Homo sapiens: one gene and its partners. The protein of the gene in region 1 purifies or fractionates together with the protein of each later gene. This does not show direct contact. Each region holds a gene or a part of one and is shown on either strand. Other genes may lie near its edges. The genes, in order: ROS1, HS3ST6 and NTPCR.

Region 1 (3,651 bases):
CAAGAACCAAAGAACAAATGTTGCCTGTTTTTTTCTTTAATTTGAAGCATGAGTGAGGATTCCTTTAAACTCCGTTCCCTAACCGGTTATATTTGTAGGAAAAGAAGAAGGATGATTATTGGCTTTTGTTTTTAGATAATAAACATTTAGACAGTAAGAATTCTATCTGTTAGATGAATTTTGCAACCGAGTGCTTAATAGTACTGTGTTTTCATGATTTTGTTCAAAAGTTGGTTGAATCGCAAGCAAATAAAAATCAGGTGAGAGATAATGAGTTGAAAATTGAATCTTTTCCTACCCCTTCAAAAATGCATGTTAACTCATAAAAGCAAAAGGGTGGATGCTGGGTAGTCTTTGTGTTCCATTTTAAACAGTAGGAGAGCAGAGATATTTCTTGATGATCATAGTCACACTGTAACGGTAGTGAGTCCTGATGGCTCTTCTCAGGAGTAAATTTAACGGGCTGAGTGAAATGACCATCAAATGGTCTTGGGCAGGGTAGCCTCACAGTCAGGTCTAAGGGTTTCTAATGAGGCAGATTTTGTCAACACTCTTCCCTAATCTCCACTCATTCCCCATTCTTCTCCTCACAATTACAATAGCTAACATTTATTGAATTATTGCTATGTTTCAGGCACTCTTATAGGTGTTTTACACTAAATCTCATTGAATCATCTCAGCAACCCTATAAGGTAGCTGCTATAATTAACCTCATTTTACAGCTGGGGCACAGGGAAGTTTAGTAAATTACCTGGATTAGGATTTGAAGGGGGCAGAGTGATTGACTCCAGAACCTGTGCTCTTAACCGGATGCCTTCCATAATCTCCACCAAAATCACATTTTTCATTTTGAACATTAGGATCCCCGCTGGTTTGCCTTAGCTCCAACTACGCCAATTATCTGCTTCCAGTAGTCAAATTCAGTCCCAGATCTCAAACTTTCTTAACCTAATACCCACTTCTTGACATAAGCTTTTCTATTCTGCCCACCTCAGGCAGAACTAATCTCATTCTTTACTTCCTACCCTAATAAATGTTGTGGGGTGGGGGGAGGGGGGAGGGATAGCATTAGGAGATATACCTAATGCTAAATGACGAGTTAATGGGTGCAGCACACCAACATGGCACAAGTATACATATGTAACAAAACTGAACATTGTGCACATGTACCCTAAAACTTAAAGTATAATAATAATAAAATTTTAAATAATAATAATAATAATAATAATAAATGGAACAGAGCAGAATGATCTGTATTTTAATTCCACATGATATTTGCTCCCAATGTGATATTCTCAAAGTTACCTGTGCCATCTAAACTTAGTGGTCGTATCCGGGACATAAGTAGGATAATACTTAATTCATAAGCTTCTGTGAAGATTCAATTAAATGCAATAATTATTATAGTGCAGTGCAGGCACTTAGAAATGTATTAGTAGTATTATGTCCCAACTTGCTGTTAACAGCCTTTTGCATACATATCTTTGGTTAGTTAAACAATAATATCCTCAGATAAATTTGATGCATAAATTAGAGGTATATTTTCTCTTTCAATTTTGAGATTTAATAACGCATTCTTTTCTAGAAATTTATCCATTTACATCCAACCAACAATTCATGAAAATAGAAGTTTACCTGTACCTTTTCCCAACTATAAATGTTTTTATCTTTGCCAATTTGATAGAAGAAAAATTGATAATTTATTTTTATTCTGCAATTCTGTGGTTGCTGTGAGGTTGAATATCTATCACATGCTTTTTAGCCATTTTTATAATATATATTATATATTATATTGGAATATATGAATTGGAATACATATTATATTGGAATTATATATATTATATTGCAATATATATATATATAGGAAATATATATATATTTCCAATACCTTTTGGGGTACAAGTGGTTTTTGGTTACATGGATAAATTATATAGTGGTGAAGTCTGAGATCTTAGTGCACCTTTCACCCAAGTAGTATACATTGTACCCAACATGTAGTTTTTCATCCCTCACTCCTCTCCTTCCCTCCCCCTTCTGAGTCTCCAAAGTCCATTATACCACTCTGCATGCTTTTGTGTACCCATAGCTTAGCTACCACTTATAAGTGAGAACATACGGTATTTGGTTTTCTATTCCTGGCCAAATAATGGCCTCCATAGAATAATGGCCTCCAGCTCCATCCAAGTTGCTGCAAAGACATTATTTCATTCCTTTTTATGGCTGAGTAGTATTCCATGGTGTATATATATCACATTTTTTTATCCACTCATCAGTTGATGGACACTTATACTTCTTTTTTGAAGTGGCTGTTTATATTCTAAATTCATCTTACATGCTTTTATGTGTATCAGGGATTTTTTCTTTAAAAACATTATTTATCATGTGTAATACTTTTTTTCCACTTTTTGGCTTTGCAGTTATTGTATACTGTTGTCATAACAGTTTAAGTTTCTAAGTAGTCAAATTTATTGATAATTTCTTTTTAGGGAGTCTAAATTTTTTAATTAGGCTTCTTAAGGCATTTCTACTTCAAGATTACAGAAACAGTCACCCCAATTTCTTCTAATATTTTTATGAAGTAAACACTTGCTTTGTTTTGTTTATTTGTCTGTTTGCATTTAAGTAAACCTTTCTGTTTTTGTTTCTTAGAAACAGAGTCACCCAGGCTGGAGCACAGTGGTGTAATCACAGCTGACAGCATCCTCGACCTCCCTGCTCAATCAATCCTCCCACCTCAGCCTCCTAAGTAGCTGGGACTACAGGTGCATGCCACCACGCCTAGCTAATTTTTGTATTTGTTGTAGAGACAGGAGTCTCACCATGTTGCCCAGGCTGGTCTCAAACTCCTGGGCTGAAGGGAACTGTCCGCCTCAGCCTCCCATAGTGCTGGAATTACAGGCATGAGCCATCGCACTTAACCAAAAGTCATACCTTTTTACAAAATATATCCTGAAATTTATTTGAATCTGGCAGTTATGTAGGAATTTTTTATGCTACATGGATAGCAACTCATTGGTTTGAATTGTCATCTTTATCATATTTCACATTCTTTATGTACATGGTTTTATTTCTTGATTGTATTCTGTTTTACTCACAGGTTTATTCCTGTAGCAATAAAAACTATGCTAATTTGTAAATATTTTATAAAATTTCTGAATTATGATCTTATTATATTATTTTGTTTTAATGTTATATATTGATATACAAGACAATTTTTCATGTCTGTACATTAATTTTTTAAAAATCTTCCAAATCCTATTATTTCTAATAGTCTTTCAGTTGATTTTCAGTTTATTTCTTTGGAACTTAAGATACAAATCAAAAATAAATGTATTGTCATCACCCTCTAATATTATAAAAGCACATCATGTTTGTAACAGCCTTTAACTGTCTAGTGATAGAAACCTTGATATCTCAGTATTTGATAACTTACTTTAGGGCATTGATTACATAATTCACTTCTTTTGTATTCCGAATTGCATCCACCACAGAGCTGAATATACATAGATACCTAGGAAAATTTATTGAATGGAATCCATTCAATAAATTGATATTGAATGAAATTTATTGAATGGAATTGATACTCCTGAGCCCTTCTCAATATTAGTTCCTCAGTTGTTGTGATTTGTTAATTCAAAAAAAAAAGGGGGT
Region 2 (3,751 bases), on another chromosome or scaffold:
CAATACCGTTTCAAGCTAGACCAGAAGAAGAATTTCCTGTGACCCAGCATAAGCCAGCATGCTCTCCTCGCATTGTGCCCGCTGCCTGCCCACGGGGCTCCTGCAGAGGCTTGCCCAGATGAGCAGGTGCAGCCCGCATGTCTGGAGCCGGGGCTGGGGGACTGGTCAGTGGTCTTCACCCCGTCAGCCCCGTGTGGCCCCCTCTGGCCAGGGCTGCTGCTGGGTAGGAGCTCCGGAATGTCTGTGGGTCGTGGAGGCCTTCGGCCCCTTGAGGCAGCCCGGCTGCTGGGACTTGTCCAGATGCCATCAGGGCTGGAACGGCTCATTAACGCAGCAGAGCCCAGGACAGGGGCCGCAAGCCCTTGGCTGGGAAGAGGCTGGGCCTCTGCCGGGAGCCTGTGCCGTGCCTGCCTGGCGCCAGCCCTGTGGCCAGGAAGGCTGGGGCAGAGGTGGAGAGAGGACCCGGGTCTCATACCACCTTTGCCTTCGGATGGGGCAAGTTGCTCGCCCTCTCTGAGCCCGGCTCGCCTCCCCTGCCTTCCCTGCAGGCTGCTGCTGGGCGTTGGGGATGTGAAGTTCCCGCAGTGTCTAGCGGCCCCCGCAGGTCCCACCCGAGAGGCCCCTGAATCTCACGCCCCTCAGAGGCAGCCCCTGGGGGAGGTCCTGGGCTCCTTCTCTTCCCCAGCACAGGGGTCCCTGAGTCCTTTGTACTCCAGTGGGGTCCACTTTGCCAGCTTCCGAAATGCATCACTGATGTCTCTGGGCAGTGCCAGGTGGACCAAGGCTGGGCAGATGGGGTGACTTAGTAGACAGAGTATGTCTCAGGCCTGAATTCAGTTCACCACTGGGCCCCTGGGAGGGAAACCTATTTTCTCTGAGCCTGTCCCCTCCATTCTAAAACAGTAACCAGAGGTGACTTGACCTCTCAGCGGCCAGGCTGTGACCCGATGTGTGACTGTCAGCTGGGAGTGCAGGACGCACGCCATTCCCGGCCGCAGACTCCCCCCACACGTTCTGGGATCCCTCTCTGCACACTAGGGTGCTGTCCCGGCCTCTTTCTCCCTTGGCAGGCCGAGTGCCCGGATCGACGCTTTTCCTGGGTCCCCTTGGCCTGGCGATGAGGCTCCCGCTCCTGCAGGCCAAGGCTTGGCCTATGCACCTGCCGCGCACGTCCCGGAGTGGGGTGGGGGGGGAAGGGGATCGGTCTTCAAACAGAGGGTCCCGAGGCCCGCGCGCCGCCCTGTCCCTGCCCTGCGTCCCGAACGGCCACCGCCGCCGCATCCTCCCCGCGCAGAGGTGAAGATGCCGGAGTCAAGCGAGCCAGGGCCTGGGATCTCGGAGCAGGAGCGTCCTGGTGGTCCCGGCAGCTCGAGTCGCGCCCGGGTGGTGGCGGCTGCCGGCGGGTCCAGCCCAGGCAGTGGCCTCGGAGGCGGAGTGGGCGGGGGAGGGGGAGGGGGGAGGGCGTCCAGACCCCGCCCCCGGTCCCGCCCCGCGCCCGCTCCCAGGCTGCGGGACCGCCGGGCGCAGAGCACAAGCCGGGCACCCACGGACTGAGCGGCGCGCGGGCCGAGATGCGCGCCCGCCTGCTGCCCCCGCTCCCGGGCCTGGAGCGGCGCGACCCCATGGCAGGTAGCGGCGGCCTGGGCGGCGGGGCCGGGGGCGGCCAGGGCGCAGGGGCCGGGCAAGGGGCCGCTCTGCGGGCGTCCCGCGCGCCGATGCTGCTCGTGGCCCTGGTGCTCGGCGCCTACTGCCTCTGCGCCCTCCCCGGCCGCTGCCCGCCGGCCGCCCGCGCCCCCGCGCCGGCCCCCGCGCCCTCCGAGCCGTCCAGCTCCGTCCACCGCCCGGGAGCACCCGGCCTGCCTTTGGCCAGCGGTCCCGGCCGCCGGCGCTTCCCGCAAGCGCTCATCGTTGGCGTGAAGAAGGGCGGCACGCGCGCCCTGCTGGAGTTTCTGCGGCTGCACCCCGACGTCCGCGCGCTGGGCTCTGAGCCCCACTTCTTCGACAGGTGCTACGAGCGCGGCCTCGCCTGGTACCGGTGAGCACCCTGGCCCGTCCGCCCTGACCGGCGCCTTCCTGGGGAGGGTATCGTGCGCCCCAGGGAGCAGCGGCACGATATCCTGCCTCCCAGGGAGCAGGGGTGCGCTCCGGGCAGTGGGGTTGGGACCGCCCTGTGGGGGCCCCAGGCTTGACCTGGGGTCCCGGCTCCGGAAGAAGGAATGATACTTGGCTAGGATTCCCTGAAACTTTGAAAACTGTGGGGAAAGCCCCGGTTCCGTTCTCTCTGCTGAGGGACCCAGCAGGACTGGGGGAGGCGGTGGCTTCCCAGCCCAGAGGTCGTTTCCAGCCCGTGGGATTACCTGGCAGCGTCAGAAATGCCTCTGCCGCCCGCTCACTCTGGGCACTCAGGTGTGACCGACCGCTGGCCAGGTACTGTAGAAAGGGGCCTCCAGGTTCCAGGCAGCCACCTAGAAAGCGTCCTTCCTCCCCAAGACCCCCGAGTCTGCGCACAGGAACCCTTGTTGGTGGTCCTGGGAGTCCGGAGAAAGTCTGGGCTTTGGAAAGGAGGAGACTGCCTTTAGGTGAGTGCCCAGGGTGAGTCCAGCCCCGTGCATGGGGCTCTGTGGCTGTCCTGCCTCTACCCAGGATGGACGTGGGGGTGCGGCAGCCTCAGCTGAAGCAGCCCGCGCTGGTGGCTGCTCATCCCCAAGCTTGGACCCAGCGCCTGCAGAGAGGACCCTGCCCAAGGCCAGTTGGGGAGTCAGTGGGGGTGGCAGGACCCAGACGCTTCTCCAGGTGCTCCAGTTTCTCCGTTCCCGATCCTCTGATCCTCTTCCTTCCCTGACGCCTACCCCTATTTGTTAACTTTGCCTTTTGTACTAAAACTACTCTTGGGTTTGGAGGGCAGGCAGGAAGGGGCTCCGTGAGAATAGGGTGGCTCGCTTCTGAGATCTGAAGGGCTGGTGCCAGTGTGGGGTGCTGGGGAAGTCAGGTGGTGGCTAGGGGACATGGAGTCCATCCCGGGGCTCACCTGGCTGAATTGGGCATCCTCAGCTCAGGCTCCAGGGAGAGACCTCACTCCCCTGACGGCAGGCAGGGGTCAGAATGCATCCCTAATCCCTGCTGCAGGGAGGAGGGTAGGAGGGGCTACCAAGCTAGAAGCTGGGGAGGAGGGGAGTGGCGAGACGGGGGAGGAGGGGAGAGGCGGGAGGGGGAAGGGGAGAAAGGGCTTTGGGTTAAGGATGCACAGTTAACTGGAGTAAACACTTCAGAGCCACCCCTGAGCCCCATGAGCTTTGACAGCAAGAGACTGGGGGTGGGATCTGAGCTGGGCCGTGAGGAGCCACAGGGGAAGCTAGGGTTGGGTTTAGCCCTAAAGGGTTCTGGAAGAGCCCAGGCTCCTGAGGCCAGTCCAGGCCCGCCCTGGGCATGTGTCCAGCGCTGGGGGATCAGTTTGGGGAGGATGAGAGGCAGCCAAGGCCAGGCCCAACTTGGGAGTCAGCTCCTTAGCCTGGGGGTGGGGTTCCGGGGACACTGACGTGCCCAGGGTTGGAGGGGGGTACAGGAGAGTGACTGCTCTGGTAGATTCTTGACGTCCTCATTTTTTAGAAGGGGGAGGGGTGGGTGTGGAGAATTCCAAGGGGTCAGTCCCGTGGCTTCTGCCTCATTAATCTGGTATTGTCCCTTGGACCAACTGTGCTGACCCCTCACTGGGCGGTGCAGAGCCAGTAGAGCTGGGCCTGCTGAGCTTCCG
Region 3 (3,651 bases), on another chromosome or scaffold:
ACCCTTTGTGAACAGGAATAGTTACCGTTGCTCCATTTTATCTTTTTCAAAATATAAACGGCAATTTTTGTTAGGATAAGAGTAAGACCCATTCAGTATAAGAATTAAAAAAAACAAGAAAAGTTTAAGGAAGAAAGTGACAATCACAGGGAATTTGAACATCAGAAATCAACATTGTAAATCTTTGTTCTGTATTCTTCTTGACATTTTTTTTTTCTGTAGACACGTACTTGACCATTCTTTAAAAAAAACATAATGGAATGGTTTCTGCTATTAACCTGCTTTTTCCATATATTATTTTCATACATTGTGGTCTATTTTCCATGCTAATAAATACATATAAGCAGTATATTTTTTAATGGTTGCATGGTATTTCTGTGTATTTATGTGCTATTATATACATGGTGCCATGAGTTAACATTCCCTTACAATCAACATTTAGGTTGTTTTCAGTGTTTTGCTATTATAAAGAATGTTGCAGTGAATGTCCTCTTTCACACATTTGTATTGTTGATGTTTCCTGAGGATGAATTCCTAGTCATGAACTACAGGGTGCTGTGGCAGGCGCATTGAAATTGCCCTTCAGAAAAGAAGTAGCAGCTTACACATTCGGCAATGCCATTACTTGCATGAAACAGATTCTTTAGTGACTTTCCTAAAGCAGTTGTTACTGATGGCCAGGGCTGGATTAGAATGTCATCATTTTATGTTCTACACAGTTCTACCAGCTGCATGCTCACTGTGGCTTACTGTAGCCAGAATCCTGTTGTGTTGCTGTTCATGTTCCAGAAAGCCAGGTGCCATTATTTTAATGTGAAGTGTGAAGATAGATACATTAAATAAGAATAATGGATCATATTTTATGTCAAGGAGGCTTAAAAGAGTGGGTAGTCTTAGAAATAGCATGATTTGCAACTCTGTAGTATCTCAAAATAGCTCACTTGCAGACATGCTAGGAGTTTTCTCTCTCTTTCCATTGTTGGGTAGTCATGATGCCACTTACTTAAATCCATATTGGGAACAAGGCTCATATTTTAAAAAGTCATGGTGACAGGTAAAGTCCCCTGTTGAAAGGTATGGACCTTATGAGGGGTATAGCCTTGGGTAAAATACCTAACCACCATGTACCTCAGTTTCTCCATCTGTAAAATATGCATAAGGATGGTAATTGCCTCAGAGGATGGTTGTGAGGACTTAACCAAGAAAATGCTTCCAAAGTGTGCTAGAACAGTGTCTGGCTCCATGACGTCAGTGATGAGTATTACTATATTAGGTAGCACCTGTTGGTGCTTACAAACCAGTGAGTTCATCAGAGTAGTCAGCTGACCAGGCTGGATGGACAGGAAGGATCAAGGTGGGGAGGCTGAGGGGGCAGAGGTACATAGGTTCAAACTGGGGAAGGTGTGGGGGATAAAGGTGAAGAAATGCTTAGAGACCCTGGAGAAGATGATGTTGGAAGGAGTTGCTAACCTGATAGGCTTGCTGTTATGAAAAAGTTTGAAAGTGACCATTAACAGGGATGCTAATGATATTTAAGAGACACATTTTCAGGAGTTACAACAATGTAAGTCAAAGGAGGAACAAAGTGATTTTCCCACTGTTAAGTGTAGGTCCGTTTGTAATCTCTTGAAAGCTGAAATCTTAAATTCCCAGCCCCTGACTCAAGTGTGACCAGTGTTACTTCCTGGGCAGAAAAATGGGAACTGTAAACCATTTCACAGGATGCAAATGGCATGGGAGAATATCATCAGGAACCTCTCAGTTGATTCTGGGATTGTGTACGTGACAAAATTAACAATGTTTCACAATTTAAAAATAAACCTCAAGATATCATTCGTGTTTTTATTATGCTTGTTTCTACTTGAAATTAAGCATTTTTAGCACCTGGAGCAATCAAAATTAAATTGAAGTTCATATTCATAAATCCATTTACAGCCCATTTCTCTACCCACCATAATTGCTGCCTCAGAGTCCACAAGTGCTGTGTGTGCTCTAGTAAGGGAATGTTTCCTAATGGGCTTTTCTTCTTTTTTTTTTTTTTTTTTTATTTTAGGAGTTGGAAAAACAACATTGATCCATAAAGCCAGTGAGGTTTTAAAATCCTCTGGTGTGCCTGTTGATGGATTTTATACCGAAGAAGTCAGACAGGGAGGGAGAAGAATAGGATTCGATGTCGTCACGTTGTCCGGCACCCGGGGGCCTTTATCGAGAGTTGGGTACTGATATTTCATTTCTGTGGTGTTCTATTATCTAAGCTCCCCTTCCATCTGTGCTTTGGGAGCTTTTCAACAAGAGCTAAATTCACCAAAAGCAGATACTCTGTTGGGTCCTTGGATGCCCATCTGCTTTCCCTTTAGGTTGAGAGTGTCTCCCTGGGCACAGGGTTGAGCCAAATGTTGTCATCTATCCTCAAGAATCTTAGGCCTTTAGGGATTTCTCAGAGAAAGAAAACAGAATGAAACCATCACATGAAAAAAGTATAAGAAAGTGATATTTTACTTAAAACTTGTTCACCAAGTCATAAACTCCTCTCACTTTATAATTCTTAGTCCTGTTTCTGGTGCCACTTTTCAAAGACTGTTGATGCAGTAGCTGCTTGGACCTTAAGAGATAGCCCTGCCATAACTGCAAGGCCCATTGTTGGAGGTGTGGACACTTTGAACAGGGTAGCTCTGTTCAAAGCAGAGAAAACCTGATCAGCTTTACAGACCACCGCATTTTGTGTTGGTCATTTTTAAGGATGATTTAGCATATGTGGAATGCCAGAGGCTCAGTGGAGCAGCTAAAAACCAGAAATCAATACAGGAGTTTTTCAACAAAGAACATAATGTCTTTTCCTTCAGGTTAGAGCCTCCACCTGGAAAACGTGAATGCCGAGTTGGGCAGTATGTGGTCGACCTGACTTCTTTTGAGCAGTTGGCACTACCCGTCTTGAGGAATGTGAGTACGTGATTTCTGCTTTTTGAACCCATCTGCTCTTAGTGTATTGTGGGAATTGCTAGCCATGGAAACAGAATGCCTTTTGCTCTTAAAGGCCCCAGTTTTGCATTTTACAATTGAAAAGATTGAGTCTTAATAAGGATAAACAACATAATTTGCTATCACTCTGAGCTACAGATAAATTCCTATAAATTCAGTACATATAAATATTTTATTTTGGAAAGGCTCTTGATGCCCAGGTACCAACATTCCCAAAGATAAGTCTTTCCTCTGTCTTCTCACAGTCATGTCTTAACCTGGTTTCACAGCACAACAAACATTTAGGAAGAGAAAATGTCATTATATGAACATAATAGCCAGTTGTTATTGAATGCCTACCAAGTACTGTAAGCAGTTAACGTATTATATTATTATATTACCTTTTTTAAAAAAGAAAAAAACTTTATTGACATCTTACGGCTTCTTTCTTTCTACTTTGAATGCCTTTTATTTCATTTGCTTGCCTAATTACCCTGGCTAGAACCTCCAGTCCAACATTGAATAAAAGTGGTGAGAGTAGACATCCTTATCTTATTCCTAATCTTAGAAAGAAAGTATTTAGTCTTTCACCATTATGTATGATGTTAACTGTGTCTTATTTGTATAGAGTTTACTCAGGCGTATTTTGTTGAGGATTTCTGCATCTTTATTCACAAAAGATATGGTCTGTAG

Evidence for each region.
Region 2: the proteins of ROS1 (region 1) and HS3ST6 purify together in Homo sapiens (affinity purification with mass spectrometry; one large-scale study listed by BioGRID and IntAct). This does not show direct contact.
Region 3: the proteins of ROS1 (region 1) and NTPCR purify together in Homo sapiens (affinity purification with mass spectrometry; one large-scale study listed by BioGRID and IntAct). This does not show direct contact.

Annotation. Positions count from the first base shown.
Region 1 is NC_000006.12:117,419,391-117,423,041, forward strand, and holds part of ROS1 (proto-oncogene tyrosine-protein kinase ROS isoform 3 precursor), read right to left. Parts: intron 1-3,651. UniProt on the Homo sapiens protein: Receptor tyrosine kinase (RTK) that plays a role in epithelial cell differentiation and regionalization of the proximal epididymal epithelium. NELL2 is an endogenous ligand for ROS1.
Region 2 is NC_000016.10:1,916,195-1,919,945, reverse strand, and holds the start of HS3ST6 (heparan sulfate glucosamine 3-O-sulfotransferase 6), read left to right. Parts: upstream 1-1,530; 5' UTR 1,531-1,622; coding exon 1,623-2,035; intron 2,036-2,467; exon of another isoform or gene 2,468-2,579; intron 2,580-3,751. UniProt on the Homo sapiens protein: Sulfotransferase that utilizes 3'-phospho-5'-adenylyl sulfate (PAPS) to catalyze the transfer of a sulfo group to heparan sulfate.
Region 3 is NC_000001.11:232,953,504-232,957,154, forward strand, and holds part of NTPCR (cancer-related nucleoside-triphosphatase), read left to right. Parts: intron 1-2,053; coding exon 2,054-2,216; intron 2,217-2,843; coding exon 2,844-2,940; coding exon of another isoform or gene 2,941-2,944; intron 2,945-3,651. UniProt on the Homo sapiens protein: Has nucleotide phosphatase activity towards ATP, GTP, CTP, TTP and UTP. Hydrolyzes nucleoside diphosphates with lower efficiency.